Linked DNA regions of Homo sapiens: region 2 is linked to region 1. Evidence: fine-mapped expression QTL. A gene starts in region 1. The other region holds a variant in brackets. All regions are shown on one strand. Distances are between the middles of the regions. Region 1 holds the start of ZBTB18 (zinc finger and BTB domain containing 18). Region 2 has its middle 25 kb from the start of ZBTB18.

Region 1 (15,388 bases):
AACAGTATTTGGCTGGTTAAAACCAAGGATGAGTTACATACTTTAAAAATTGTTTTAGAAAAAAAAAAAAAAAGGCAGGGGGATGGAAATTAGGATTCCAAATTATGTTATTATACTTCATGACAAAATCCCTGTGGCTTCCTATCCAAAGCCACCAGGTAGTTGGTAAATGGTCCATTTTCAAACTTCAGACCTTATATCCCACTTCTGTAGGTTAAAAATATTGACCTTACTATAGGCCACTGAATATAAACATAGTTTGACAGTAATAATGTAAAATTTCATAGTCATATTTCTATTTAAGGTTGGAAGTTAGAGACAAGCACGGTTTACAAAACCTCTCCATGCCTGCACCTGACTGCTTGAGCTTAGGGTTGTTTGTGACAATTCCTCTACAGTATCATCCGCATGTGTGAGTGTTCTGTCAATTCCCTACCCAGGTCAACCAGCAATGTTTCTCACCCTGACATGTACCCAACTAGATAAGCATGAAGTTGGGACAATCATAAAAAGTAGGGAACAGAGTTCTTTTAATGGTCCATGTATTTAATTACATGTTTAAATTAAAACTTGAGAATTAAAACCTAGAAACTTTCGAGTTCTCCCAGCAACAAAAAGGATGTATATAGCTAATCGTGAACAATTGCATGCCTGCTAATTCAATTGCCTAGAATTCCAGTCATTAGCCAAGCAGTCTTCCAAATTAAAACATCCGGTCTCCTTCAATTTTCCACTTAAACCAGAACACAGGAGAATAGATTTGACCGATCAACTTAGGATAAAATTACACACGAAAAGTGACTTACGGTATATGGATTAGTAGTTGTACAGTGTATTTTTAACAACCTATGCTGCCACGTAGTTTCATGATTCATGAGTTTCTAGGGAATTACCTCAACATTCTTGATGTAGATTGTGAAAATGGGTCGCATTTTTTAAATGTGCATTTAGTATCTTCTTAAGTGACTAGAATGCTTACACATTTTCCACTCGAGTGATTTAAGGCATTCTAATAATTTCATAAACTCCGAATAGAATTGATATTAAAGATGCCAGGTATGATACATATTTAGAATCTATACACTACATAATCACAATAAAAAATACACACAAGAAATTCTCAGTTCATATAATTTATTGCAGTTAGCACACAGTTTAAAAATTCACCAACACACCAATAGTACAAAACTAAACAGCATTATAAGTTATTCCCCCTCAGGAAAATAAAACATACTATGATTGTCAAAGCTAGATGTCAGTCTAAGTTTTAGAACAAAGGAAGAATGTGAAACTAAGAAAAGGAAAAAGCAATCACTCACAATGACCACAAAAAGAAAATCCAAAAGAAAGTCCGTTTTCTCACAGACATTGATTGTCTTCTCTAAATTAATAAAAATTATTTTAACATAAACTGTATTTTAAAAAAACTAGAAACTCTTCAAGTAACTAAAGATAATGCTCCAAGGCCATTTTCACAGCTTTTTTTGTTTGTTTGTTTGCTTTAAATGCCATTACAGCCAAATTAACACACATTTAACCAAATATTTCCAAAACAGTCCAGCAACACACAATGGAGTTTTCCATTCAGTATCTTAAGCACAAAAATAGGCTATGTTTACAGTAGTTAAGGCGATCAAATTTTAAACAAAAGCAATTAAAAAAAAAAGGGAAAAACAGCAAACGTTTTCCATGCTACTCCCATAGACCTTATTTGTAAGTGCAAGACAGGAAAACAAACACTGTGCAAAATGCTTTTGCCTTGCGTGCTGGTCATTAAAACCACACGTTAGGCTGCAGCCTCTGCTGCCGCAATCCACATAGTCTACTAACCCCCTTCCCCATGTCAATCAAGGCAGTCCAGTCCTTTCAGCCTGGGGCTTTTTCAGTCCATAGAATCTTTTCATGAGTTGGGGGTGGAGGGTGGTGGTGGGGGGGGAGAGTAAGGGAGGGAGGGTAAGGAGGAAGGGGAGAAAAAGAAAAAGGGAGCAAACAAAAAAAAAGAGAGAACGACCTATTGTCAACTTGTGCAGTAGTTATTCTAAGAACGCTCAACTGGGTAAATGTGTACACCTAAACTCTGAGCTGGCATGGGTTTTGTGCAATTAGAAGTTTGTTATAAATGCACACTGCACATGCAAATCTTTAAGCTGTTTGTAAACATTTATATTTTCCTTGTTATGTAGCGAAGTTATCAATTTGCAGCTTAAGTTTTTATTCAGCTTAACAGTTTCAACTTAAAGACAGTGGGAAAGTCAATTTAAATTATATAAAATAAAAATAAAAACAGTGCATTTACGTTCTTCATAACACCAGTTTTTTTTTCCAAATGGTGTTATTTTTCTAAGGAAATTAAATAATTTTAAACTCACTCGTTAAAGTTATACAATGCAAACAAAGACAAAAAATATATTGAAACTCATGCATTTCTGTAGCGTTAATATTTACTTTTCAAGACTCAACTAAGAGCATCAACACAACCTGTCAAGTTCTTTGACACCCCCCCAGCCCATGTAATCAATTACAGTATACAATAACAGTAATTCACATTTTTAAACACACAGTTCAACACTGCTGAAGCTGCAATATCCTTTTTCATCCCAAGCAAACCTTCATAAGACAGTGTCCCAGTGATCCCAGTGTACTTTCAGCATTTCTCTCACTGGGAACTGTCAGAAAACCAGAAGTTGCCACAGAAAGTTTTAAGTCAACTGCTTGTTTAAAAATAGATAATCCAGCATTTCAGAAATTTTCCATTTGGGTCTAAAAGCATTCAGGTTTCCAACAGCCAGAAAAAATTCATGCAATTTGAGACATATAAAGAGGCTAATAAAACTGGAGGGAATTTCTACTTAAAAAAAAAAACAAAAAACAAAAAAACTTTGTTGGGGGGGAAAAAAGAGCTCAAAAGACAATGCAGTGTTGACAAAATTAAGCCATATGAAAGCATTTTGTGACAGGACGATTTGTTTAAAAGGTTCTTATTGGCTTACTTCCCCTATCCCCTCAAAGGAAAAACACCTCTCTATTCTGACTTGCTCTAAAGTTTCTTTTATCAGAATGCTAAATTAGTGAGATTCTCATGCTATTCTAAAGTGCAAAAACAAGTTAATATCCCAACTTTTTATTTCCAGGAAACAAGACTGCTTTTAGACCGTACCACAACTATATAGAGATCTATTTATATATATGTATATATATATATATTATTTATATATATATAAAATTATTTCCAAAGTTCTTGAGAGCTATCTTCTAAGGTCCAGTCTCTGACAGTAGGCAAGCTCAGTGCTTCGCTTTTGACCGACAAGGAGTTCACCAACTCACAGTGGAACTTGCGAATGTGTCTGTACAGGTCCCCGGACTGCGTGAACCTGCGCTCGCACCACTTGCAGGCGTGCGGCTTCTCGCGGGTGTGCACCACGGCATGGCGGCTCAGGTTGTGCGAGTACTGGAAGCTCTTGCCGCACTGGGTGCATGTGTAGGGCTTCTCCCCCGAGTGAGTCCTCTCGTGGCGCTTGAGGGTGTACATGCAAGAGAAAGTCTTCCCACACAGCGAGCACGTGGGCACGTTGACATCGGCGGCGGGCTTGCTGCGGATGCCGTCCTGCTCGCGGAAGTGCGTGCTCAGGTGGATCTGCAGGATGTGGGGGCTGGGGAAGACCTTGTTGCACAGGGGGCACATGAAGATCTGGCCCGCGGGGCTCAGGATGTTGGAGACGTAGGGGAGCAGACTGCTCTCCATGCCTCCCTCCACCTGGACACGCTCGCTCTCTGGGGTCATCATCTCATCATCACTGGCTTTGTCCTCCCGGTCCAGCTCCCTCAAGACCGAGTCCTCCCTCAGGGGAGCCAGATGGGCCGGCTCATACTGTACCCTGTTATTAGTGCTCACACTTTCTTTCACAGTGCTATGTTCCATGTCATAGTCATTAGTGCCAACATCACTCTCATCACAGGAAGCCTCTTTCTCCACCTTCACCTGCACCAGGTTGCTTCTCAGCACGTCCTGTGAAGAGAAATAAGAGCTGTTCAGATTTTCAACTCCTGAAAGGCTGGACTTGACAGACAGGTCCAGCACACAGTCAACATCTGCCGAATCCCTCACGGAGGTGACAGACCTCTGGGACAAAGACTCTGTTGAGCTGCAGGGGCTGGCTACTGTTTTTCCAGCTGCTGTGGCGTGTGGCTCTGCCTCTCCGCCAGCCTGGGGGATGCCTGCTGAGTCTGAGGGCAATCGCATCCACATGTTCCCAGGCTCGGCCGCCAAGTCCCTTTTGCTGGGCAGGATGTTCAATTTTTCATCTTCTCCTTCATCTTCATCACTGGGCAAATCGCCTGCTATGTGGCTGCTGCCATCGGAGAGACTCTCGACTTTGTCCGAACAACTTGAAGCATCTTCTTCCTTTTTGGTGCTGTCTGCCTCCGTGGTGGCTTTCTCTTTCAGCTTCTTTTTGCAGACTTTGACAATGTCATACATGTGGAGATAACTGGCAGCTGCTAGCACGTCTTCAATGGGCAAGTCTTTGAACTGGAGTTTCCCTTCATACATGAATTCAAGCAGGAGAGCGAAAGCGGGGGCTGTAACAATGTCGCTGTTCAGATGAACAATGTCTCTTTTGTCCAGCTGGTCCTTGTAAAAGAGGTGGAAATACATGCTGCATGAAGCCAGTACAGCTCGGTGCGCTCGGAACTGGGCATCTCCCACCAGAACAGTGCAGTCACAAAGAAAACCCTGGTGTCTCTGCTCGCTCAGACACTGTAGCAAATGTCTACTATGGTCTGGAAACTCCATACTGTCTTCATAACCTGGGGAGAGAGGAATTTCTCATTAGAGCCTGGTCAGGAACAACTTTTCAGCGCTCCAGTCCCCATATAAAAAAATTAATTCCGCTTTGGCCGCCGTGGTACATGTCCCTGAATTTTAATCAGGCTTATGACCCAAGCACCACCAAATCACACGGACAAGACCTAAATGCCAGAAGGAAAATGCACACTTTCTGAACTTCCTCACCCCCGCCAAAGAGCTTCCGACGCATCTCCATCTTCCTTGAACCCAAGTTCTAAAAGCCTTCCTTTAACTACAGTCTCTCACTAAGAATAAGAATTTAGATCTCTTCCAGAAGAAATTTAATTAACTCTACTTATCAAATTATGTCCCACAAAACCTACAAAATAGCTTTAATTTCAAAGGGAACAACTCATATAATAAACAAAGAAAAGTCCCAAACATATCCTGGAACATACAAGAAAACTTGTTCAACCATCCTTTTTATTACTTTTGCTACCTGACTGTGCTTAGAAAGCACAGTTTAAACACACACACACACATTTGGCTGAATCAAGAAAAAAAAATGAAATTGCATAATTAGTCCAGAAATTAGCAAACAACTTACTTTTAAAGTCAGGGTGTTACAACAAAAGCCCTGTGTATAAAAACAGATGTTAATGCCTTCAGATTTGCAGGTATAGCACACATGTACGAGATCAGAAGGAGCTGCACCAACAGATGGAAAAGATCATCTTTACTATGAACAAATCCAAAGATTTTTCAAAACGAACTGAGAAAAAAGTAGTTACATTTCTTTGTAGAAACTGTACTTTCAGAATATTAGGAACCAGAGGGGCTTTACTGAACTCCGAAAATTCTCATCTAAACTTTGATCCGTTGCAAGGCAAAATGAGTTTCATATTGAAATTAATTCAAACTTTTAAAAATAAAGGCATACAGCGCTTAAATAAAACTCAAAAGCTTTACAGGTTCAACGTTTTTTTTTAAGCCTTTTTAGAAAAAGAGAACCTTTTTTTTTTTCCTGGTTCTGCCTTACCTCAGCCAACAGAAAATACTTTGTTTCAATATAATTTGATATATTTCTGTTTTCCCACTAGCTTCTATTCTTGCAAATATTCATCATTGCCCTTGTTTTGTGATGAGGGAAAGTGAAATGGAGGGAGGAGAAAGGCAAAGATGTACAAAGGGTCAGAATTCAACTGCAGTGGGTAAACTCCTGAAAAATAAAGAAGACCCGACTTCCCCTTTCCTGTGACCAGAAGCAAGCCTCCACACCACCCATCTCAGCAAGTGCATTTTGGGAATAGATACACTTAATTTAATATTCAGAAATTACTTCCTTTCTTCTTGTTCTTCTACACTTTGCCCAAGACAGACTAAAACTTTATCCTAACCCCAGACACATTCTGCAAGATGCCACTGCTAGAATAAACTAAGATTTACAATACAATCACTTTAAGTGCCCCACAGCTAACATCAATCCTAATCCTTGAGAAGGCTAAAAATAAAGATTGGAGGGCAGCTCACAAGGTAGCCGTGATCAAATTAGGAGGCTGAGAGGACAGAGAGGGACGAAGAAGGAAGCTTATAAACATCTGATCCAGCTGACTGTGGCCATATGGCAGCTGCTGCCCAGATAAAGAGATTAAGAATAGAGGAGTGCGATTACAGCTGTCTGGCCAATTCAGGCAGCTCAAATCTACAAGTTCTAAATTAGTCGCTAACACAAAAACTCCTGCAAATAATTATTGTTATGCTGAAATAAAAGATCTCTTAAATATATATTTGAAAGAGAAATGAGGAAACCAGTCAAACTATTCTCCTGGGGACAAAAGTTTGGTTTTTTTTTCTTCTTCTTAAAAACCTGCAGTTTCAACAGCACTACAGCTGTATGTTTCAGTAGTGCTGCTCAATGTTTTGAAGAATAAAGTTTCACAGAGGAATTAATTATACAACAATCTAGCTGCTTAACTAGAATAATCTTCTCATATAAGTTTGAATGCTGGATTCCAGTTTACTATTTCCCCACCACCACCACCCCAATCAAATCTAAATAGCAGTGAACAACAAAAAAGCATTTTAATCCAACGTGATTTCCAAAAGCAGCATTTTAAAGCCTTTCTTAACATTTCAAAACTTGAAATATTTGTGTATTAAAGTTATTTACTCGCTCAAGTAAAAGGGATAAAAAATTAAAACTAAACAAGCTCAAGACTTTCAACTCCAGTAAGATGTTCATTTAATACTCAATTTCATATATTATTCCTAAACTGGGTTAGAAAAGTAATGTGATTTTTAAAATTAAATAAACAAAACACCAAAACAGAAATATGCTCAATCTAATCTCTTGCTACTCCTACCTTTAGGACACATAAACCTGATTAAGTCCTTTCCTCTGAGTCCTGCTGGCTCCAGGTCTGTTACATCGGTGGAAAAAAAGCAGACTAAGAGAGACAGATGCAAAGTGGAGATGATGTTAGAGAGGAATGAGATACCTTCTCCACCACAGATCCGCACACACTAACTCCCTGTCTGTGTGTTAGAATAAAAGGCTGAGGGATGGCAGGCTGTCAGCTGCTCTGACATCATGTTCAGATGGAAATGCTACCTCCAGCTGTGCTCCTTTTAATGCCATATGCTACTCCTCTACACTCCTGCCACCAGCTTTTTCTTAGGAGAACTTTTCTCTTCTGTTAGTATAAACAAAATACTTCAAAGTCTTCCTTTTTTTCCAAACTTTCTAACAGAAGAAATTGAAAAACTCAGCATATGGAGTTCTACTGTATTTATGGAATAGCAACACTTCTGTCTTAAGTTGGTGGACTGGCTTACATACTGACAGCACACTCAAGCCACGGTGCTATTCAGGAAATCCAGATTCACTTTTATTCAACTCCAACGTTTAGTTTCTAAAGCAGTTTAGGGATATTTTTAAACCAACCCATTTGACATCTCCAGTCCCATTTCAACATTATTACCGCACTTTTTTATTTTTTTCTGCTGAGATAATGGTATACATGTCTCAAATGTTGGCAGACTTGTTCAGAACTATTACTTCAGACTGGTTCACCTTATTATTTCACTCTTATGTAATTACTTATCTACAACTACCTTCTCAGAAAAATTTCTTACACTGCCACAGTCAATGCAAATTTCAATTCTCGGTACCAACAAGCTGAAACTGCACTTTCTGAAATCCTGGAAAGTACTTCAGTTCAACGAGACCAATTAATAAACTGATACAACCTGCTCCAGTCACTTAAAATGAATGCTGCACCTGCATATCTGATCTTTCTGCTCAGAAAAAGCAGAACCTTGCCTTCCCCTTGATCTGTGTCCCTTAACAATCTTTTTTTTCTTTGGGGGGGGGTCACTCTAATGTTTATGATCACAAGAAAATCTTTGTGTGGGGGGAAGCCAGGTCTAGTAAGTTTGAGAACTTTTCAGCCAGTTTGTGGGTCTTTTCTAATAGCTGATGAAACTGTAACGCGACCCGGGCTGGGCTGACCGGTACCGGGCAGGGTGCTGCGACATCTCTGAATGTCAAATACATCTCCTCAGACTCTTGGGAGGGCGAGGGGTAGAAAAGGAACTGGGGCCTGAGGCGCCAGCGTCCCAGCCCTGGTGATAACCACTTCGTTCCCATTAGAAAGCCGTGGCGGAGAGTTAAAGAGTAACAAAACCCGACGACTCCGTCCTGTCCTTCTCGCTTTCCCAAAGTCACAAACCTAACTTTCTCCAACTTCGCGGTGAGTGACATAATTATGAACACTTAGTCCAGGAGACATCCTCGGGAGATCAATTTCTTCCCAGCCACACCACCTATTCTCCACAAATGCCCTCGACCCATTCCAATATATCAGACATTAATCACCCCATTTACCCAGTGGGGTGGGGGGTGAGTGACAGTTTAATGAGTCCCGGGCACCGCAATGGGCCAGCAACTCCCACTCCACAAATCAACCCCTTCACGTCTCGCTACCGCGGATCCATAGAGGTTTTGTGAGGTTGGGGTTTTGTTTTTCAGAGAGGTGGGGGCGGGGGTGCCGAGTGGGGAAGCAATGCAAATCTTTACGTAGTTCGCCGTGCATAAAACACACGGGGAAAGAGGAAGGTTAAAACCACAGGGAAGGAGGTGGAGGGCGCAGAGCCGGTGCAGCAGGAAAACACCTTAAACAACAGAGGAGAAAACAGACCCGGGTCACGGCAACAACAAAAGAAAAGTCGTAAGAAGCAGCCAGCGGGAGGAGAGTGGTTGCTACCGCTTCCCCGATGCCGCGACGCGCGAGCCCCCGGGGCCTCCGGGCAACTGCACCAGCCCGGGAGGGCCCCCTCCCCCGCCGGCCCCCTCCCCCGGGCGCCACTGCAGCTGCACCGGTCCCCGGAGCCGCGGCCGTCCCGGGCGCCACTGCAGCTGCGGCTGCTCCCAAGCCCCCTCCCCCAGCCCGCCGCCCTCCGCACCCGAGAGGCGCCACCGCAGCTGCACCGGCCGGGAGCCCGCCCCGCGCCGCAGCTGCACCGGCCCGCGGGGGCGCGGCGCGGAGCCGGGAACCCGCACCCCGCCCGACCCCGCAGCTGCAGCGGCCCCGTCCCCGCGCCCGGGCCTCCCGCAGCTGCGCCGCCCCCCGCCGCCCCAACAGCTCCAACCACACAAACTAACTCCACTCGCGGGGGCGCCCCCGACCCGGCCCGCCCTCCGCCCGCGCCGCCCAGCCGGCCGGGGCCGCACAGCTGGCGCCCCCCGCCCGCCGGGGTGCCGGGGCGCGGAGGGGGCGCCAGGTCAGGGGCCAGGGGCCGGCGCCGGGACTCACACGGAGCGGCCCTAAGTCACCGCGTCCCCGCCGCCGCCGCGTCCTCCGCCTCCTCCTCCTCCTCCTCCCGGCCGCCGCCGCCGCCGCCGGACTTGGTGGGCTTCCTCCGGCTCTTGCCCCCCTCCCTCCCGGCCCCCCCACCCCCCAATCCCGGCTCCGTCGCCCGCTCCCCCCCGCCCCTCCCTCCCGCCCACCCCCGCTGGCAGCCGGAGGAGCGCGGCGGAGCGAAGAGGGCCCCACTCTCAACGGCTCCCCATGGCAGCAGCCCAGCGGCGGCCGCAGCCTGCCAGACACAGCGAGGGAGCGAGCGAGGGAGCGAGCGCGGAGCCGCCGGGCCGGGTGGGGGGGCGGGGGCGGGGGGGGGGCGGGCGCGGGGGAGGGGGAGGGGAGGGGGCGGGAGGACGCACCACGCACGCACGCGGCGGCGCCGGCCAGATGTTCCCCCCACCCTCAGTCCGCCCCTCTCCTTCCCCTGCCTCCCTCCCTCCGGGCGTTGGGCTTCTGCGATTGACCGAAAGCGGCTGGACCGGCGCTCCCCGCCCGCCCCCAGCCCTCAGACTCCTCCAATGGGAAGGCGGCTCTTCGGGAAGGCGGAGGGGGTGGTGGGCAGTCGTCGGACTGACAAGGGGGCCCAGCCAATGGGGGTGGCGAGCCGTAGCTGCCCTCCCGCGCGTTCCAATCGCAGGCAGCAACTGTTGGGGTGGGCGGGGCTCGGGCGGGCGGGGATCCGGAGCGAAGCGGCGCGGGGCGGAGTCCTCGGGCGCAGCGGCGGTGGCAGCAGCGGCGCCCCTCTGGGTGACTTGGCCGTGAGAAAGTGAAAGGAGCCCGCAGGCGGCGGCGACAGCTGCGCTGGGAGGGGCTTGTTTCCAGGCTCAGAGGCCCCGCGCACTCTGCGGGTGCGGAGCGAGCTTTTCGGTGTGCACTGTGACAACCACAAACACACTTTTGAACGTAGTGGGGCTTGGCTGCTGCGAGTTACGCAGGTATCCTGGAGAGGCAGGGCACCCGGGGACACGGATGACTCGAGGCCGACTTCGGGTGGCTCTCTCTGCTCCTTCCTGTGGGGGTGAAGACGCCCGGGTCCTCGCCGGCCCGTGCGCAGGGGAGCGGGACCGAGGAGCGCTCTCGCTCCGTCCTGCGGCGTCCCGCGCCCAGGTGCACATCGGGGAGCTGGGGACGCAGGCGACTCAGGCAGTTTCTGGGAGTCGTTCTTACGTCATCATGTCACGGGCAGAACAGGGCAGAGCGCCCGCCTTTCTCGCAAAACCCTCCTGTCCCTTGTGTACTTACACTGTTACAAGTAAAGACTTCCCCAAGTGACCAAATTTTAGAGCATTACAGTAAAATTGGTACTTGCAGATGCCTCAGCTTGATTCCTTAATTGATACGTATCTAGCCACAACTTTAAACTACCGAGGGACGATGTAAGACTGCTGTGTCGCTTTTCTTTCCTTCAAATAAACTTTTACTCGGTACCTGTTCTTGGCAATTAGACTGCGTTAATCACAGCCACAAAGACGTGGAAATGTCTGCCGTCAAGAAATTGGAAATCGTATCGAGGCAAGAATTACAAGTAAAAAGTTGAATAACAAGTGGTGGGGGAGGGGGAATGGCTGAAGAAAATAAAATAGAAAAAAAAAAACAACTTCATAGTGAGGAAGTCAGTCCACTAGTCATTGTCTAATGAAATGTGTTTATTCTTTGCTAACAGAACCCAGACTGGCAAGCCTGTTGCTAACCAACCTGCCAGGAGACCTTTCAACTGGGCAAAATGTGCTTTCACTTTGTTCCAGGTCAAATGGGTAAAGTAGCTGGAAAGTATTGTGTGGGCAAATCAGACATGTTGAATTGCTAATGAAGTAAAAACAGGAGCAGACAGAATTCCTGGAACTGAAATAGCTTCGAGATATCTGGTTAGAAACAGTAGTGATGTGCCTACTTTTTTCTCAACCCTCTACGCCCTCATGATTCATCACTGAGGTCAAGGATATCCTATGAAAATTGGAGTTTTTGTATTCCATGAAGGCTTTTGTTGTATCTGTGCTGTCGATGAATTCTAGGTCTTTTCAGTCTAGTGGTAGAAGGCCCAATTTCAGTCTGACCTGTTTCAAGGTAAGGAATAAATGTTATTCACGAATGAAATATACAGGCACACAAAATGAGATGTGAAAAGTATATGTTTCACCAACTAATTCAGGGAAAAAGAAATGTTTGCGTTATCAAAGCTGTTTCTCATCTACTAAAAGTTAAAATTAAGGAGAGTGACAGATCTCTACATGAGTAGACAGAAAGTAATTGATAGTGTCAGGATATTAATTCATGAAAATATTAGTACACTCGGATTATCTACAAAAAGCTTAGAAACTCAGCTGTACTGCATCTAAAGCCAAGGCATAGCTCTAACAAAATGTTTTATAGAATGTACCTGCAAGTAGAGTAACAGCCCCAAAGATATGGAGGAGACATTGATACATCAAAAATTGTAACCTGTGTGTGTATGTGTGTGTGTGTGTATTGTGTTTCCCTTACAGTCATTACTAGAATCCATTTTGGGAACTGAGCAGTGTGGCCAGGAAATATAGATTAAATGGATATTTAAGGAAGCAAATCTGTTGCCCCTCAGTTGCTACAACCATTTTATCCAGAGTCCCCTAGTGTGACTGTCTTTTATGCCCTTTTTTTCACATTTAAATAAATTGTTTTTACTCTCTTGTCTTAAACTGTTTTATAAACTTATCGTACAGATGATACTTTCAATCCTTTGGAAAGTTATCACCATGAAAATTGTGAGTAAAAGTAGGCTGATATCGGAGGAGTCATAATACAGAATGAGTAGTATTTTTATTTAATACCCATTGGAACCCTGGAAGGTAATAAGTCAAAGTCTGAATATCCGCCTCAAGTAAGCACCTCAAAGTAGGGTGTTTACCACTATATAACAGGCTGAGCAAATTACCAAGACACACAGCTACTTGACACCTGTCGAGTTTGTCGGTTTTTTTGTTTGTTTTTTAGCTAATAATCTATACTTCTCCCCAGCCCCCCATAGTGGGGGAGAAAAGGGCAAAAAGTATACATTCTAAGCTCTTGGGAAAAGATACCATACTTTCTTTCTGGAGGAATCCAGTCCTGTATAGTTCTAGTTAATCCATACTTTTCTAGGTGTCCTGAAATTAAAAGTGATACAAATGAATCTTTCTTGCCAGGGAACAAGTTTTATGTGCTAATAACATATTCATTTCAACTAATAACAATGTAATAGTATAAAATGTTGATGGATCAAATAAAATTTAATTTGATGAGCAACTCCATAAAATGAATGTCTGACCTTTAAGTGTGAACCACAGCTCAAATCTCTGAAAAACCTCAGTGTTTTTATTACACTTTATGCAATAGGTCATATTGAAAAAGTTATCTTGGAAACTAGTTTTTGGATATTGATATTTTATAAATGTATTAATTTCCTACAGGAATGGAATGTTTCTTTAAAAATTAGGGAGGCAAGCAACAGTAAAATACTAGGTGTTTGAAGGTATTATATTGATAATATAATAACTATAAAATCTAACAAAACGTAAGTAGAGGTCAACCTGATTTTGAACCTAGAGAGAAAAAATACACTAAACTGGGAAGTGTGTTCAAGCTTCTATGAAGCCCACTCACTTTCAATATTAGAGCATACATGGAACTCTATGAACTTACTTAGTTTTTTTTCTCTCTGTCTCATCTCTCTTCTGGCATTTAGAAATGAACAGGTTGATATGCTCTAAAGGGAAAAGGAAACACTGAAACACAGTTGAGACAGTGATTTAAAAAAAAGTAAATGAACAAACCAGAACACACATCACAACACATTAAGGAGAGTGACAGATCTCTACATGAGTAGACAGAAAGTAATTGATAGTGTCAGGATATTAAACAATTCATGAAAATATTAGTACACTCGGATTATCTACAAAAAGCTTAGAAACTCAGCTGTACTGCATCTAAAGCCAAGGCATAGCTCTAACAAAATGTTTTATAGAATGTACCTGCAAGTAGAGTAACAGCCCCAAAGATATGGAGGAGACATTGATACATCAAAAACTGTAACCTGTGTGTTTTTTTTACAGACAGAATGAAGTGAACAGGGAGCATATTTTATATAGCATCATTCTTAAAATACATATTTTACGTATTTATAATTCTCTATAATACAGTCTAATCTTATCTGTAAAATATATTTATAATTCTGCAAAGCACTTTCTATGTCAAATCATTCCCTGGGTTATAAATTCTGTGATACTTGAATCTATTAAATTCCTAAACTATGGTAAGCCCTAAATTGGAGATAATTCAGCCTGATTCTCAGCCCTGAAGATAGAAATAATGTCATAAACTCTTGAGAAGTCCTTAGCAGATTTGCAGCAGGCATTGGTGGTATGCCAATGAAAGCAGAATGAACCTACACCAGTGATTCAAACCTGCTGAGGCTTAAGGGCAGAGGGGAGCAAAGGATAGTCTCCCTAAAACTCTTTTTCCTGTGTAGCCAGTGTTTTGTTGCTTACTGTAAATCAGTGCTTTTACAGACAGCATAATGGCTGAAGGAGGCCAATACTTCTGGCTTGGTTGGGACTAAGACAGGCCACTTCAGAGAATTTAGGAAAAAAGCAAAGAGGTGTTTCAGTAGCCACCCAACTCACAACCCTCTTCTCATTCTCTCTCCCCCCTCTATCTCCTCCAGTCTCCCCATAAAATACATTATACGTTACAGCATATGGAAGAAAAAAATGCACACAATGATGGCTTTTCTTGTTAACTTTGTACTATAAATATATTCATCATTCACTTTGTATATAATCCCAGGCCACTTTTGAACCCCAGGCTGGCTGGCTTCCTTGCTACACAGGATGCCTTTGTATCATTCACTGGTGGGAGTTTAATCAGTTAAAAATTATTTAAAGGCTATCCTAAACAAAACAAATTTCTAAAGGCAAGTCTACCATCCTTAAGAATCACATGCCTTCAAATACCAGATGTTGGAGTTAATCTGTGGGGTTGAAGGCTGCATTACTTTGGATAATTAAAAGATACACTCGTTTCATCTGTGGGCTTTTTAAGATTTACCATTTAAAATAACCCAACTAAACATGTGACTTCCAGATGAGTAAATTCTACTAAAGAAAGATTTAATATGAACCTATGATATTCAGAACCCCTTCTTCAATGATGGAAGTCTTCAGGGGTATCAATTGTGCTAAAATGTTGTACAATATTAGTAAATAGAAGTTGTTTTATTCAAAATGAGAGGATAAGACTTCTAAATATTTGAATGCTAATATTCTCACTTGTATTACATTGCTTAAATTGGAGTTTGTAGAAATTCGGGTTGCAAATGAACTTAGAAAAGTTGAAATGAACAGAACAAGAGAGGTTACCAGGTAATATTGATGCCTCACACCTACTGTGTGTTAGCTGCTGTGCTTCGGACGCAAAGATACAAATAGCGTCTGTCTGTCTGTCTGCATTCTCCTCCAGGGAGAGATTTTTCCTTTCCTTTTGTGCTTGCTTCACTCTTGAATGCAGCACCTTCTTGGATTTAAACAAGCAGAAAGGAAAATGATACATCTAGAAATTATTTACTAAGAACTTAGTATATGTTAGAGAAACACGAAACTGCATTATCATGGTTCTTGTTAAGTTTCCACCATGTGCTGGGTGCCAACAATACATGAAATAATATCATTCCCTCTTATATCTTCATTATGTATATATAAATGTCATTGTGAATCCACTGGACAAAGATGAG
Region 2 (15,388 bases), 25 kb before region 1:
CATTTCAAGGTCCCAGGAAGGGCTGCAGAGCTGTGTTCACATCTCTGTGGATTTTTGTAAGATTTGCCAAAGTGATCTATTTTAGCATTCTTTTTGTTAAAGAGACTGTCCCAAATTGTGTACACTTCAGGTCCCACAAAATCTGGATATGCCTTTGCATTTAAAGATGGAATGAAGCACGTGCAGAAAAAGGGGAACTCACTGAGCAGATGTAGAGGGTGACACGGAGAAAGGTCAGCACATGTTGGGAGGAGTGCGTGTGGCCCTGATGCACAGGAGCAATTCAAGGCTAGAAAGGATGAGGAGATGACTTTCCCAACTCCTGGCCCCAACCACCAGGCTCATCTGCATCTGCCCTCTCCTTTCCTCCTCTTGGCAACAGTGAAAGAGGGATCCCTCCTCCTGCACGGCCAACCTCTCCACCCATGCTGGGAGCCCCTCCCCTACAACTTTCCCTATGGATCATTCCCTCTCCTTCCTGAATCTGGAGCTCCACCTGCTCCAGCTCCTCTGGCCCCTTCCTTGATCCGCCTGTTGAAAGAGAAAGAAGTGGGGAGGGAGGGCAGGGAGGAAGGGAAGGAGAGAGGGAGGGGAGGAATGGGAGCGGGAACCTCTTTTGAAGATTGTCCCTCCCAGGACTCAATCCTCTTCTTTTCCTCCACTATTCATGGCTGAAGTTCTTGACAGACTTGGTCTTCACTTCCTGCTTCCACATTCTCACCTTGAACAACTTGTCAACCCAACCTGGATCCTCCCCATACCAGCACCAACTCCTGGGACACTGCTCTTGTCAAGGTCCCTGGATCCTCCCCATACCAGCACCGACTCCTGGGACACTGCTCTTGTCAAGGTCATTAACAATCTTCTGACTCAGGACAACCAAGAAGTGCTTTTCTGTCCTGACTTTACTTGGTGTCCTGCCTTGGATTACCCACTTCCCTGGGTTTTCCTCCTGCCTCTGTGTCTCTTCCTTCTCCGTCTCTGTTGAAGACTTTCCTTGGCGCTGGTGTCCTTTGGCTTTTGTCTCAACCTTTCTGTTTCTGTCAGTCTCAATCAGTATTTCTCCTCGTGTGTCTCACAGGCACTGACTCTTAGTATGTCCAGACCTGAGCTCACCCTCTCATGCTTCCCCACCCTCACCCAGACCTGAGACCTGCTTGTCCTATGCTCCCATCCCAGAAAACGGCACCACGACCTGCACGCATACCCAAGCCAGAGACCTGTGACGTGGGCTTGTCACCTTCTTCTCCCTCACCCTTCACATCAAATAATTGCCAAGACCTCCTCCCTCAGCACCTCAATGCCTCTTACCTCTGTCAACTCTTTACGCCACCATCCCCAATGCCACAATCGCCCTCTGCCTGAGCTCCTGCAGGGGCTTCATAACCACCTCCCTGCCTCTCTTCTCCCTCTCTCCAATCTTTTCTCCAAACTCCAGACGGAATGATCTTTCTAAAATGCAAATCTATTCATAGCGCTCTCCTGCTTAAACCCTTCCATGGCCTCCCACTGCTCAAGATTAAGCCTGAACTCCCAGACAGGTTCTTCCAGTCTGTTGTAATAGAGACCCACTTCCTCCTGTCTTCACTTTCCCTCTCACAGGCGATGGCTATATTGAACTGCCCGCACCCCCTTATCCCTGGGTAAGGGGTACCTGCTCCATTTGCCTTCCCGTCCCACACCCATTCCATCTTTTCTTGGCTCCCTCCTATGCCTTCTTTGGGTGACTTCAAGTGACTTTAGATAAGTCACCTTTTCCAGGATGCCTTCCCTGACCTCACAGGGGCTCCAGCTGGGCAAGTCCTTAGCACCCTGGTGTGACCCCCTCCACCCTCTGGGGTCCTTGAAAGAAGGACGAGGACTTTGTTGGCAGCACTGTGCACACAGAGGGGATGCCAATGCCTGGTGCGTGGAGGAATTCGGGGAATACGTGTTGAATAAGTAGTGAGTGAAAGATTGGATGGAGCTAGATCACCCAGTGTATTATATGCTAGGCTGGGGAGTTCGTGTTTTATTCTGTAAGTAAAATGGAGCTACTACAGAATTTGGAACGAGGGAGTGAGTTGACCTCGTCCATGCTTTTGAAAGTTTGCACTGGTTTCTAGAAGAACGAGGTAGGAGACTCTTGCAATGGTCCATGCAGGAGGTAATGAGGTACTGCACTAGACACAGGCAGGTAGAAGGCAGACAGAGGAGAAGCAATGCAGAAATCACATTGATGGATCCCATCAACTGATTAGATTTGGGGTTGGGGGAAGCGGGGGCATGCACAGAGCAGGGAAAATGGTTGTGGATGGCTCTGGAATTTAAATCTAAAATGGGGCCAGATGCGGTGGCTCATGCCTATAATCCCAGCACTCTGAGAGGCTGAGGTGGGAGGATCACCTGAGGTCAGGAGTTCAAGAAAAGCCTGGCCAACATGGTGAAACTCCATCTCTACTAAAAATACAAAAATTACCCTAGTGTGGTGGTGCACGACTGTAATCTCAGCTACTTGGGAGGCTGAGGCAGGAGAATCACTGAAACCCAGGAGACGGAGGTTGCAGTGAGCCAGGATCACACCACTGCAGTTCAGCCTGGGCAACAGAGGGAGACTCTGTCTCAAAATAAATAAATAAAATAAAATAAATAAATCTGGAATGGCCAGGATATGATTATTCTCCTACTGCCAACCATCAGAGGGACGGCCTTTGTATCATTTACACTCAGAGACTTTCCAGGAGCCCCCTCAGTTTCTGCCTGGAGCTTCCCTAAGATCTGTACCCTTTGTTTTCTGAAGTTTGAGGACCCCAAGACTTCATGCTTCTACCATAAACCCTTATGTGGAGAGCAAATATTTGCAGAGCATGGGGTAATTATTGTTGTTTTTATGGTTATTTATTCAAACAGAATTTGAATTATAAAATTAACAGTGGCTTGCCCTGGTATCTCATCATACACACACAGAGCATAATAACTCCAACCTCGCCCCCACCAGGACTTTAAAGAATATCTACGGCAGAAAGTTATGGGTTTGGCTTTTTATTTTGTTTTTCAATCTTCAAAACTCTCTTCTCACCCTGCCTCGGTGGAGCTGTGTCTTTGCACACCTGTCCTGGGCAGCTGCACCGGCCATCACAGGGAGGGACATTATGCCGCACTTGCCTAGGAAAAGCAGCCACCGTGCCGGTCAGAGACAGGACCACAAGTCAGGAGGCCTGGCAGGCTCTCCACCAGGTGGAATTGGCAAGAAACTCACGTCTTCTCTGCCTCTTCCCACCAAAGGCAACCTTCAGGGCACAAGGTTAATGTGAACACGATTTGTCATCATCCGGCAGAGTCTCACCGGGGTGCCTGTGTTTAGCAGGTTCACTGAGCTCAGTATTTCTGAAGCACTTACTCCTGCCGGACAAGCAGTTACTGATGAAAGCAGGAAGAATAAAAATGGGAATGTTTTCTCGAAGTGAAGTGGGACTTGCCTGTGGGTGCTGCACTCACAGGTAATGGATCAGGACACACAAGTGACAGTGTGGACCTGGAGGTCAGACCACTTGGAGTCAAAGCCCAGCTCGGCCTCTTACTAGTGTCCTGATGACCACTTAACCCCTCTACAGCTCAGTTTCCTCATCTGTGAAATGGATATGATAAAAATAACTATTCCCAGGGTTCTGATGAACATTCATTGAAATAATCAACATAAAGAACTTAGCGTTTAGCAGACTGTAACCCTTAGCTAGTGTGATTTTTCAACCTCCAGACCCCTTTGGTAGAGTAAATAATTCCAATGGTCACCTGTTCCTATGCTGTTTTTAGAGTTTCCCATCCCCATGGGCTGCTGCTGCTGCTTTTTCTGCATTCATGAGATTTTTTTTCTCTCTTGAAAAGAGCTTCCTGCCAGGCGCGGGGGCTCACACCTGTAATCCCAGCACTTTGGGAGGCCAAGGCGGGTGGATCACTTGAGGTCAGGAGTTCGAGACCAGCCTGGCCAACATGGTGAAACCCCGTCCTACTAAAATACAAAAATTAGCCAGGCGTAGTTGCACATGCCTGTAATCCCAGCTACTCAGGAGGCTGAGGCAGAAGAATCGCTTGAACCTCGGGGGTGGAGGTTGAGGTGAGCCAAGATCACACCACTGCACTCCAGCCTGGCTACATAGCAAGATCCCATCTCAAAAAAAAAAAAAGAAAATAAAATAAAAGAGCTTTCAAAATATACCTGCCTCCAGAAATACTCAGTAACAGCTTAGTAACAGGTGGGCAGATCACGAGGTCAAGAGATGGAGACCAGCCTAGCCAACATGGTGAAACCCCATATCTACTAAAAATACACAAATTAGCTGGGGGTGGTGGCGCATGCCTGTAGTCCCAGCTACTCAGGAGGCTGAGGCAGGAGAATCGCTTGAACCCGGGAGGCAGAGGTTGCAGTGAGCCAAGATCGTGCCACTGCACTCCAGCCTGGGTGACAGTGCGAGACTCTGTCTCAAAAAAATAAAAGAAAAAAGGAAACACTGTACCCATTAACAGTCACTCTGCATCTCCCACCGTCCACCCCACACCCTGGAAACAGCAAATCTGCTTTCTGTATCTGTGGATTTGCTGATTATGGATATTTCATATAAACAAAATGCTTCCTGTATTCTTAAGACAAAACCCTTCTCTTCCACTTGGAAGCAGTAAGCTCCACAGTCAACAGTAGATCTTGGGAATCAGGCCCACCAGGGTCTAAGCCCCAGCTCTGCCACTATGGACTGGATGACAGCAGGTGAATTATCTAACATTTCTACAACTTGCTTTTCTCCTCTAGAAAACAAGGATGATAATCACAAGATCCTCACCCAGGGTTATATGAGGAATCAGTGAGCTGACACTTGTCCAGGGTGCTGTCAGAGATTATTAATATTATTTCCTATTACAGCACACAAGTAATGCAAGCTCATTGAAAAAGATATGGTCAACACAGAAATGCATAAATAAGAAAGTCGAGCCCGGGCATGGTGGCTCACACCTGTAATCCCAGCACTTTGGGAGGCTGAGGCAGGTGGATCACTTGAGGCCAGGAGTCTGGGACCAGCCTGGCCAACATGGTGAAACCCCATCTCTACAAAATACAACAATTAGCCGGATGTGTGTCGCGCACCTGTAATCCCAGCTACTGGAGGGAGCTGAGGCAGAAGAATCTCCTGAACCTGGGAGGCAGAGGTTGCAGTGAGCTGAGATCTCGCCACCGCACTCCAGCCTGGGTGATGGAGTGAGACTCTGTCTCGAAAAAACAAACAAAAAAAAAAAAGAAAAGAAAAGAAAAGAAAATCACCCATATCCCCCAACTGTGCTGTGGGTTGAAGGTCTGTGACCGTGGCTCACCTTAGGGCTAGCCAACAACAGCTGCAGCAATAGCGAGTGTTGAGATGCATGGACAGAGCATGGGCTTTGGAGCTGGACAGACCCAAGCCTGCCTCTCTGCCCTGTCACTCTATGGTGACCTCGGACAAGTCACTTAACTGCCCTGAGCCCTGTGTCTTTATCTGTCATGGTTAATGGGAAACATCTCCTTCCTAAGGTTGATGTGAGAATTTAAAAGAGATGAATCCCAGCAATTTGGGAGGCTGAGGCAGGAGAATCGCTTGAGCCCAGGAGTTCGAGGCCAGCCAGGGCAACATAGCAAGAGTCCCCATCTCTACAAAATACATTTTTTTTAATTAGCTGACCACGGTGGTGAGTGCCTGTAGTCCCAGCTAGTTGCGAGGCTAAGGTGGGAGGATTGCTTGAGGCCAGGAGGTCAAGGCTGCAGTGAGTTGTGTTCATGCCACTGTACTCCAGCCTGGGAGACAGTGTGAGACCCTGCCATAAATAACTAAATGAATAAATAAGATGTTCAATGTCAAATGCATGACACATAGTAGGGTCGCAACAGCCACAGGCATGAGTGGGCCCTGGAGAAGGCAGCACACGAGAAGAGCCATTCAAGTTGCAAGTACCAATCCCAGTGGCGGTGCAGAAACAGGGGAGGAGGTGGGAGACTCGTGGGGCAGTCAGGATTTCCAGAGATGCCAGGAAGGACTTTGCAGGCAGGGAGAAGGTGCTGAGTGCAGCAGGGCTGTGGGCTGTTTTATTTCCCTCCCTAACCTTCACACTCAGTCGCTCCCATCCCACTAGCTCATTCACTCTTCTCCACATCCCCGTGTTCACAGCAAAGCAGCCTGTGGGTGGTGCAGAAGATGGAGAAGTCGTGAGAATAATAGCAACAATAGCAATAGTAATAGCTGGCATTTTTACGGAGGGTTGCTGTGTGCCAGGCACCAAGCCAAGCCCTTTCTCACTTCCTCCTCAACTACGAGGGGGTGGGGAGGGGGCCGAGGGAGCTTCTGCTGTAATAGCCTCTCCGTGAGGACGGGAGACCGCAGAGGGGCTGCTCACGTGCCGACGCGCAGGGATCTCTGGCCCGCACCGGACCTGGGCTCTCCCAGCCCCACCGCCGTGGAATCTGAGGGACTTCACGCTTCTGGGAAAGGAACAACAAAGAAGGCATACACAGAGATTTTGTGCGATTCAGAAAGACTCCAGAGAGTAACAGGCCAGCTTCCCTCCGGTATTGGAAGCTACTCTATGAAACTCAAACTCATAGGCCAAAACTGCATGCTTTTTTCAGAAGGCCAAAGCAAGTCCACCTCAGCTCAGAGTATGCCAAGCTTCAATTAAATGTAAACGGATCCCTTAATGCATAGAAGAGACAAAATAGGGCTGAGGCTGCATGCTGCATTGAGTCCACATGGCACCAGGGAAGTCTGACCCCTGGGAAAGGGCACGTACAGGTTGGCTGCAGGTGCCCGGAGCATGTAAATAATTGGAAATAATGGGGCTCCAGTAGGTACCATCAAATGCGTGAATGGGATTATTCCTAGCACTTCTGCGAGCCACAGATGACTTGCGCCATCTCCTTTACTGTGCTGAGTAGCGACAGATGGCAGAAGGAGAGTTGGGCAAAACCAAGTCTCGTCTCCCCACCATTAACAAGCTGTGTGACCTTAGGCCAGGCACTTAACCTCTCTGGGTCTCAATTTCCATGCTTTTATAAGGCTGAGGAAAGCTCAATTCCCTTCTGGCTCTAAAATCCCTCTTCACCCCTTCTCACATGAACTTTTGGAATTGGCCACGGAGGCCAAAAGAAGCCGTGGCTGCATGCTGGTCTAGACTGAACAACAGACACCCCAGCAGGCAAAGCCTCGTGCAACATGCCAGGGTGTTCCTGAAATCGTAGAGGTAAATCAGCTGATTGAAAACTATATCATAAAAGTTATGGAAGTCTCACTCTGTCGCCCAGGCTGGAGTGCAGTGGCCCGATCTCAGCTCACTGCAACCTCCACCTCCTGGGTTCCAGCTATTCTCCTGCCTCAGCCTCCCCAGTAGCTGGCATTACGGGAGCATGCCACCACGCCCAGCGAATTTTATATTTTCAATAGAGACAGGGTTTCACCATGTTACCCAAGCTGATCTCGAACTCCTGACCTCAGGTGATCCGCCCACCTCAGCCTCCTAAAGTGCTGCACCTGGCCCCTTTAATCTGTTTCTTAACTTGATTTTCCACAGGTGGATTTAATAAGCTTCAGAGTCAGCTGATCTAGGTTGGAACCCTGGTTCCTGGAAAAATTACTCTCTCAACTTCAGTTTCCTTATCTGTAAAATGGTGTTAGTGCCTACCTTGAAACTTTGTTAGGGAAGCTAGCAGGAATTTATGTCGAGTGAAGCAGAGTACGTTAAACATGAGGTGCTCGCCTCATATCAGCTTTTTTGCACGATCCTCAAAGCAAAACACATGTTCATGTGTACTTGCCTTTTTCTCTGTGGTCTCTTTTAGGTCCTCCAGGACAGGGACAATATTTTTATTCTTGGTAAACCCTATAGTGCTTTGCACAACACTTAGTAGAATAAGTGAATTCATCAATGAACGAAATTACTCTTTCGTTTTTCCCTAAGGTTCTGGTCTCTTTTAGGTCCTCCAGGATAGGGACAATTGTCATTCTTGGTAAACCGAGAATAAAACTTTTCTCTCTGATCTCTTTTAGGTCCTCCATGATAGAGACAATTTTTATTCTTGGTAAACCCTATAGTGCTCTGCACAATACTTAGTAGAATAAATGAATTCATCAACGAACGAAATTACTCTTTCGTTTTTCCCTAAGGTTCTGCCTTCCAGAGTTCACACCATCTCACACTTCATTGTTTCTCCCTTCCTCACAGCCAACATCTCTTCCGGGTGGTAGGTTTAAGTCAGTCTCCGGTCGCCGTTTTTGCAAGTCTTAGAGACTGGCCCTTTTAAAAGAGGATTCCTGACATTTGCATCTTGTGTCAGAACACATGCATTTGCATACGTTGGAGAACCTTGAGGCTCCAGACAGCCTGAAGTTAGAAAGTGCTCAGAAGAGCAAGGCAAGCCTCCCCCAGGAGGGTAGGAAGTGGTAGGCACTTACAGTTAGTGCCAGCCAACTCCTTAATGTCCCAGCCAAATTCCTGGGATGGCCAGTCCCAGGAAACCACATGTTTTTATGCTCAAGCTTGTAAAACATTGTCGTAAGTAAATCAAATTTTTGTCCTGCCCTCTCTGCTTACCAGACCAAGAGCAGTGATTATGAATGGCAAGTGGCAAGAAACGGGGTGGAGAAAAACATCACCAGTGAAGACGGAAATGTGTCTGAGAGGTAGGACGGGGGTGTCTGCTTTCTCAGGGAAGCTCCAGCTTCTGTTCCACCTCCTGGGAACCTGCCTGTGTGTCCTAATGTCCACCTAGCCCGGATGAGACTGGACAATCAAATTCATGCTCCTCCCGCTCTCCCTCACTTTACCTGTGGGGGTGTCAAAGCCAGAGAGTGAAGCCATTAAATCAGTGCAACCAGAAAATTCATGAGCTCAGAGAGGGCGGGTTGCCTGGTAGAATTAGTAAACTTCATGAGGTGAGAACCACATTTCCGTTCAGCTCAGTGTTCGC[G/C]GTGCGAGACAATGCCTCGCCCACTCGAAGTGTTTGTTGAGGGAGTGGATGCATAGATGCAGGAATAAACCAGTGAACGAACACATCGCAGCCGGCAGTAAACTCAGCAAGCCCTTCAGGTTCCCTTTCAAGGCGCTAAGACTACCCGTTTTGCAGCCTGGGCTACTTAGGGGTAACAGGTGAGAAAATATCTGTTGAAGTTTCCAGGACAGTGGAGAGGGCAATGCGTGGGCAGGTCCCAGGAGAAAAAAAAGGCTGCAGGTGGGGTGGAGCCAGCCGTGCAGGAAGCAAGTGGGAGAGAAGTAGGAGGTGGGTGCAGCTGAGCGCCCGGGGAAGCCCCTGCAGGAAGGGACGTTGGTCAGGCAGGAGGAAGGAGGAGGAAAGAGCACATCACATCTGTGGTGCCCAGGTGGCCACCCAGAGCCCACTACGCCACATAGGCTGTCATTTAATTCCTTCAAGAGCCCTGTGATTTCAGTATTATTATCTCCATTTTATGTCGGAGAAAACTGAGGCTCAGAAATAGTAAGAAACACAACCAAGGTCAAGAAGCTGGAAAGTGGAATAGCGTTGGGAATTCAACCAAGGTTTCGCCAATTTCAAAGCCAATATTCTTTCCATCCTCCTAGCACTGTCTCCTGGGAAAAATTAATGTGAGGGATACGTATCACATTGATACACATCATCCAATGATACCCTGCCTCCACCCTGCCGCCAGCCACCCAGCCCCATCAGTCCCCAAGTCCCGTTGACTTGTTTTTTCTAAGTTTGACTGGGACCCAAACCCTTCTTTCCATCCCTGGCTGGGCTGCTGCCTCAGCCCATTCCTCCATCACCTGTCACGTGGACCACAGCGGTCCTCTCCTGACAGGCCAGCCACCCTGCTTGCATCTCACATGGCACATCCACAACCACAGTGTTCTTTCTGGAGTGCAAAATGGAATGTTTTTCTCCTGCTCTAGGATGAGGCCCAGATCCCCTAGGTCCTGGCCTGGCTGACCAGCCCAGTAGCATCTCTCTCAATTGGATGGTGATCCCCAAAAAGATATGTCCACACCTAACAACCGGACCCTCTGAATGTGACCTCATTTGGAAAAAGGGTCTTTGCAGATGCCATTAAGTTAAAGATCTTGTGATGAGGAGATCATCCTAGATTACCCAGGTGAGCCCTAAATCCAATGACAAGTGTCCTTTAAGAGGCAGAGAGAGACCTGGTGCGGTGGCTCTCACCTGAAATCCTAGCACTCTGGGAGGCCGAGGCGGGAGGATCACTTGAGGTCGGGAGTTCGAAACCAGACTGGCCAACATGGTGAAACCCCGTCTCTACTAAAAATACAAAAATGAGCCGGGTATGATGGTGGGTGCCTGTAATTCCAGCTACTCGGGAGGCTGAGGCAGGAGAATTGCTTGAACCCAGGAGGCAGAGGCTACAGTGAGCCGAGATCGTGTCACTGCACTCCAGCCTGGGTGATTGAGTGAGACTCCATCACAAAAAAAAAAAAAAAAAAAAAGAGGCAGAAGAGAAGACACAGAGAGTAGAAGACCACGTGAAGATAGAAGCAGAGATTGGAGTGGTGCAGCCACCAGGAACGCCTGGAGCCACCGGCCACTGGAACTTCAGGGACAAGGGAGGATTCCCGCATGGAGCTTCTGGCGGGAGCATGGCTCTGGCAACCCCTTAATTTTGGGCTTCTTGCTTCCAGAACAATGAGAGAATAAAGGACTGTTGTTAGAAGGCACCCAGTTGCTGGTGATTTGTTTGGCAGCCCTGGGAAACTGATACACCTTTCCCATCGTGCTCTAGCCAGACCCACTGGACTGAGAAAGATCTGACAGTTTCCTCAGATTTGCCCAGTTCTCTGTCTGGTCCTTCGCACATGCTAACTCTCTGCCCAAAACACTGTTCCACCCGCTTATTTACAGGCTGACTCCTCTTCCCCTGCCACTTTCTGAAGAATCTTCTCTGGCACATCAGCCAGGTTGGACTCCACTTACAGCGCGACCCCTCTTTCGGTGCACTTCACTTTTATAACACTCATGATACTTTATGGTCATTTTTGGTTTCATTGTTTCATTGGCTGGTAAGTAAGTTCCATGACGGCAGGAACTGCTGTATCCCCAGGCCCAAGTGTGCAGTAGCCACTTCGTCAACATTTTCCCTCTACCTTAGTTCCATTTCCACCTCTGGCAAGCTTCCCCCATTATGTGAGGAAAGCCCATTTTCAGCTGGAAATACAGGAGCGAACCCATGAAAATGGGGTGAGGAGGGCAAACAGAGAATGAAAGAACTTAGTGTCATCTTCAGCCCTGTGCCCAGTCACCCCCAAGGCCAGCGCTGCTCCTGGGCTTCCTAGCCGTGTGAGTTAATAAAGTCTATTCTTTCTTCACACTAGTCTGTGTCTGTTTTCGGTCACTGAAAACAGTGACTGAAAGGATCCTAGCAGAGACGATGCTTCCACTGCTTGAAAGGTACCAACTCACACGTCCCCATGGCCTTTCTAAGAGAGAGTTGCTGAAATCCCTATGTTAGTGAGGAACTGGGGTTCAAGGGACCCTGTCATGTGCCCAAGCTCTCACCATCGTGAAGTGGGCAAGCCTGGATCTGCACCCCATCCACGCAGCAGGCAGGCAGGAAGATCAACAAAGGCCTGAAGAGAGGCAGCAGCCCAATGTCAGGCCCGAAAGCCCTCCAAATACAAATCACAAGAATTGGAGTGCAGGCCAGGCACAGTGGCTCACATCTGCAATCCCAGCACTTTGGGAGGTCGAGGCGGGTAGATCATGAGGTCAGGAGTTCAAGACCAGCCTGACCAACATGGTGAAACCCCATCTCTACTAAAAATACAAAAATTAGCCGGGCGTGGTGGCACGCACCTGTAATCCCAGCCACTCAGGAGGCTGAAACAGGAGAATCCCTTGAAACTGGGAGGTGGACATTGCAGTGAGCCGAGATCGCACCATGGCACTCCAGCCTGGGTGACAAAGCAAGACTCCGTCAAAAAAAAAAAAAAAGAATTGGAGTACGAACAGCAACAACAAAACCCATGGTGCCTGAAATGTCCCCCTTTGTTTCCTCCAGAGTCCGTGACACACTGAATCAATGTGTCTCCACATTGACCTTGAGGACTTAATTCTAATCAGGAGCTTCGTTCAATCTCTTACAAGTCTGATTCTGATTATGTTGCATCTTTAGTGATGGGACCATGAGTACCTAAAAAGTGATGAGCCACACGTCCAGACAATCTGTGTTTAGCATTTATTTATTTATTTATTTATTTATTTTATTTTTGGAGACAGGGTCTTGCTCTGTCGCCAGGCTGGAGTGCAGTGGCTCCATCTCAGCTCACTGCAGCCCCAACATCCCAGACTCAAGCGATCCTCCCACCTCAGCCCGCTGAGTAGCTGGGGCTACAGGTGCACACCACCACACCTGTCTAATTTTTGTTTTTTGTTTTTTGGCTTTTTTTGTAAAGATGAGGTTTCACTATGTCACCCAGGTTGATATTGAGCTCCTGGGCTCAAGTGATCCTCCTGCCTCAGCCTCCCAAAGTGCTGAGATTACAGGCATGAGCCACAGAGCCCAGCCTGTGTCTGCCATTTAAAACAAACTATGGGCTGGGTGCCGTGGCTCATGCCTGTAATCCTAGCACTTTGGGAGGCCGAGGCTGGCAGATCACCTGAGGTTGGGAGCCCAATGTCAGGCCCGAAAGCCCCCCAAATACAAATCACAAGAATTGGAGTGCAGGCCAGGCACAGTGGCTCACGTCTGCAATCCCAGCACTTTGGGAGGTCGAGGCGGGTAGATCATGAGGTCAGGAGTTCAAGACCAGCCTGACCAACATGGTGAAACCCCATCTCTACTAAAAATACAAAAATTAGCCGGGCGTGATGGCACGCACCTGTAATCCCAGCCACTCAGGAGGCTGAAACAGGAGAATCCCAGGCAGGGAGACCAGCCTGACCAACATGGAGAAACCCCGTGGAGAAACCCCGTCTCTATTAAAAATACAAAATTAGCCGGGCGTGGAGGCGCATGCCTGTAATCCCAGCTACTCAGGAGGCTGAGGCAGGAGAATCACTTGAACCCAGGAGGCGGAGGTTGTGGTGAGCCAAGATTGCACCATTGCACTCCAGCCTGGGCAACAAGAGCAAAAACTCCATCTCAAGAAAAAACAAAAACAAAAACAAAAACAAAAAACTGTGTGGGGCTGGGCATGGTGGCATGCACTTGTAATCCCATCTACTCGGGAGGCTGAGGGAGGAGGATCACTTGAGCCCAGGAGTTCAAGGTTACAGTGAACTATGATCACACCACTGCACTCCAGCCTGGGTGACAGAATAAGAGTCCATCTCTAAAAATACAAAACAAAAGTTAAAAAAAATTTAAATAAATAAAAAATGAAATAGTGGTTCTCTGCTCTTGGCTCAGGAAAGCCAGGTCTCCCAGGGGCTGGAAAGAGGGACCTTCTAAGGGACAACTTCATTTTCAGACAGTGGCACTGAAAGCACGGGAGAAGGGGAGTGTGACTTTGTCAGTAGCCAGTACCCTGGCTGATGCTCCCGGGTGCTCAGTCTCAGAGGGCCTGGTTCCCATTAACCTGCACTGATGCTCTCGACGCCTCCATGCCCTCGCCTCCTAGATTCCGGTGTTTCTACGTGGAGAACACACATTCCACACCTGCTGTGAATACAGAGCTCTTCAGTGACACGAGTCTCCTTCCTCCGTCCCGAACACGGGGAAAGGGGAGACATCTTCTTTGTTCATGGGTGCTGTTGTCTGATCACCCTCTGTCCCACCCACAGGGCATCTGGATCAGTATTAAATAGCTGAAGGGTCGGCTCAGCAATTGAGTCACATGGCCTCCGCAGCATGGATCAAGTAAGGGTTTCAGAAAAATGTATGTGAACATGCTCCAAGACTGTAAGGTCATAAGGGAAGAAGATTAGATAAGCCAAGTTAAGTGAAAAGTAATTGATATTTTACTGTACTTTTTTTAAAAAAAAAAACAACATTATTTCACTTAACCATTTGGCCATGGGTTAGAAATGAACTCTGGAGACACCAAAAGGGAGAATATACTATTCTCACTTCCAAAGAAATAATATTTTCTCCTCATTTCCCTTTAATTTTCGTTGAGATATGTAAAGAGCCCCCATTGCTTCGTCAGCTCAGCACCAGCCGCATTCTGGGAAACTGTCTGCCCTGCTCCCATGCCCCCTGTGCATGCATATGCGGTGCCTTCAATATGGCACCATGGGAGACTAACTTTTGCTACAACGGGCCTCACCCTTGGCACCGACCATTGGTCAAGAGGTGGGCACCTGATCCAAACGGGCCAATCATAGCCCTCCCCCCAGGATTTGGGAACTGCAACTGACAAAAGAAGTCAGTCTCTCTCTGGGTGTCTGAAAATGAAGGCATGTAAATGCAGAAGCAGTTGGCAGCCCTGTTCCACCATGTGGACTGAGGAATAGAAAATGCCAATCAGCAGAAAGAGAATCAGAGGCAAGGAGAGGAGAGCAAATCCAGACGGCATTTGAGCTTCTAGTTCTAGCTGCTTGCAAGGCCTAGCCATATTCCTCTTTTGGATTCCATTGAATCCAAGTAGCCTTATAATAAAATTCTTTTTTGGCTTAAACTCACTTAAGTTGGATTTCTCTTCCTTGCAACCAAAGAGTTTTAACTAATATGAGAACATAGTCCTATTTCAGTCTCGCTTACATGCTAATCTTAAATTCCTCAACCATTTTACTTTGTGACTTCAAAATGAAAAAAAAAGTGAAAATATTTGAGTTAGACTCTTATGCAAATTAGACTGCAATCATTCTCTTGGACTGTTTCTTCACAGAACACTGATAGCGTTTTGCTCCATGCTGGAATGGATTAAGTACAAGCTAGAAATATAAAAAATGACTAGGTTGGTGGTGTGGCTGTCCATGGTGGATTGTGGCATTTTTATGATTGTCACTAGAAATTTGATTTTCTCTCATTTTAAAGTCCATTTGCAATTGTGTTGTGTTCTCTTTTGACAATCTACCGAAGTCAAATGATCTCTGATCTTTAGGCCTATCAGCATCTCCTTGGACACTCCACATCCCATGAACCACATCCAAAAGCGATGGTCCTTGGTGTGCCACTTCCTGTTGAAGCTGCCTGTCTACCAGAATTAGCCTTTTCAAAGGCAAGGCCCTGTCGGGGAAGGTGACGGGGAGCTGTCCAACCAAGACTCTGTGAAGGAGCTGAACAAACAGAAAATCACTCTGCAAGACTCATAGGAATGACTCCTTAGGAGTCATTCTCTCTGATAGACGGCAACAAAAACAAAGGTGATATTGCCTCATCATCTTTCTTAAAGGTAGGTGTTTAACATTTTTAAAATCCATGGAAGTGGACTGGGTTCGGTGGCTCATGCCTGTAATCCTAGCACA

What was found.
Region 2: its variant is fine-mapped to the expression of ZBTB18 in whole blood (TOPMed, PIP above 0.99). The same link has a PIP of 0.9 or more in T cells.

What each region holds. Positions count from the first base shown.
Region 1 is chr1:244,043,206-244,058,593 of GRCh38, reverse strand. It overlaps ZBTB18 (zinc finger and BTB domain containing 18), which reads right to left and starts at 7,311. Exons shown (of 2, transcript NM_205768.3): 1 at 7,150-7,311; 2 at 1,118-4,806. The coding sequence starts at 7,162. The coding sequence ends at 3,224. It overlaps LOC124904570 (a long non-coding RNA gene), which reads left to right and starts at 10,353. Exons shown (of 2, transcript XR_007066975.1): 1 at 10,353-10,583; 2 at 10,997-12,911. LINC02774 (long intergenic non-protein coding RNA 2774) reads right to left here. Exons shown (of 12, transcript NR_033883.1): 10 at 15,045-15,171; 11 at 13,303-13,366; 12 at 11,277-11,702. RefSeq lists enhancers at 6,035-6,536, 8,253-8,302, 10,513-10,672 and silencers at 7,983-8,072, 10,223-10,342.
Region 2 is chr1:244,068,564-244,083,951 of GRCh38, reverse strand. No RefSeq gene overlaps it. Among named protein-coding and RNA genes, the nearest start is that of ZBTB18, 25 kb to the right of the region's middle. RefSeq lists enhancers at 6,474-6,974, 9,087-9,136. The variant G/C (reference allele first, on the strand shown) is at 8,960.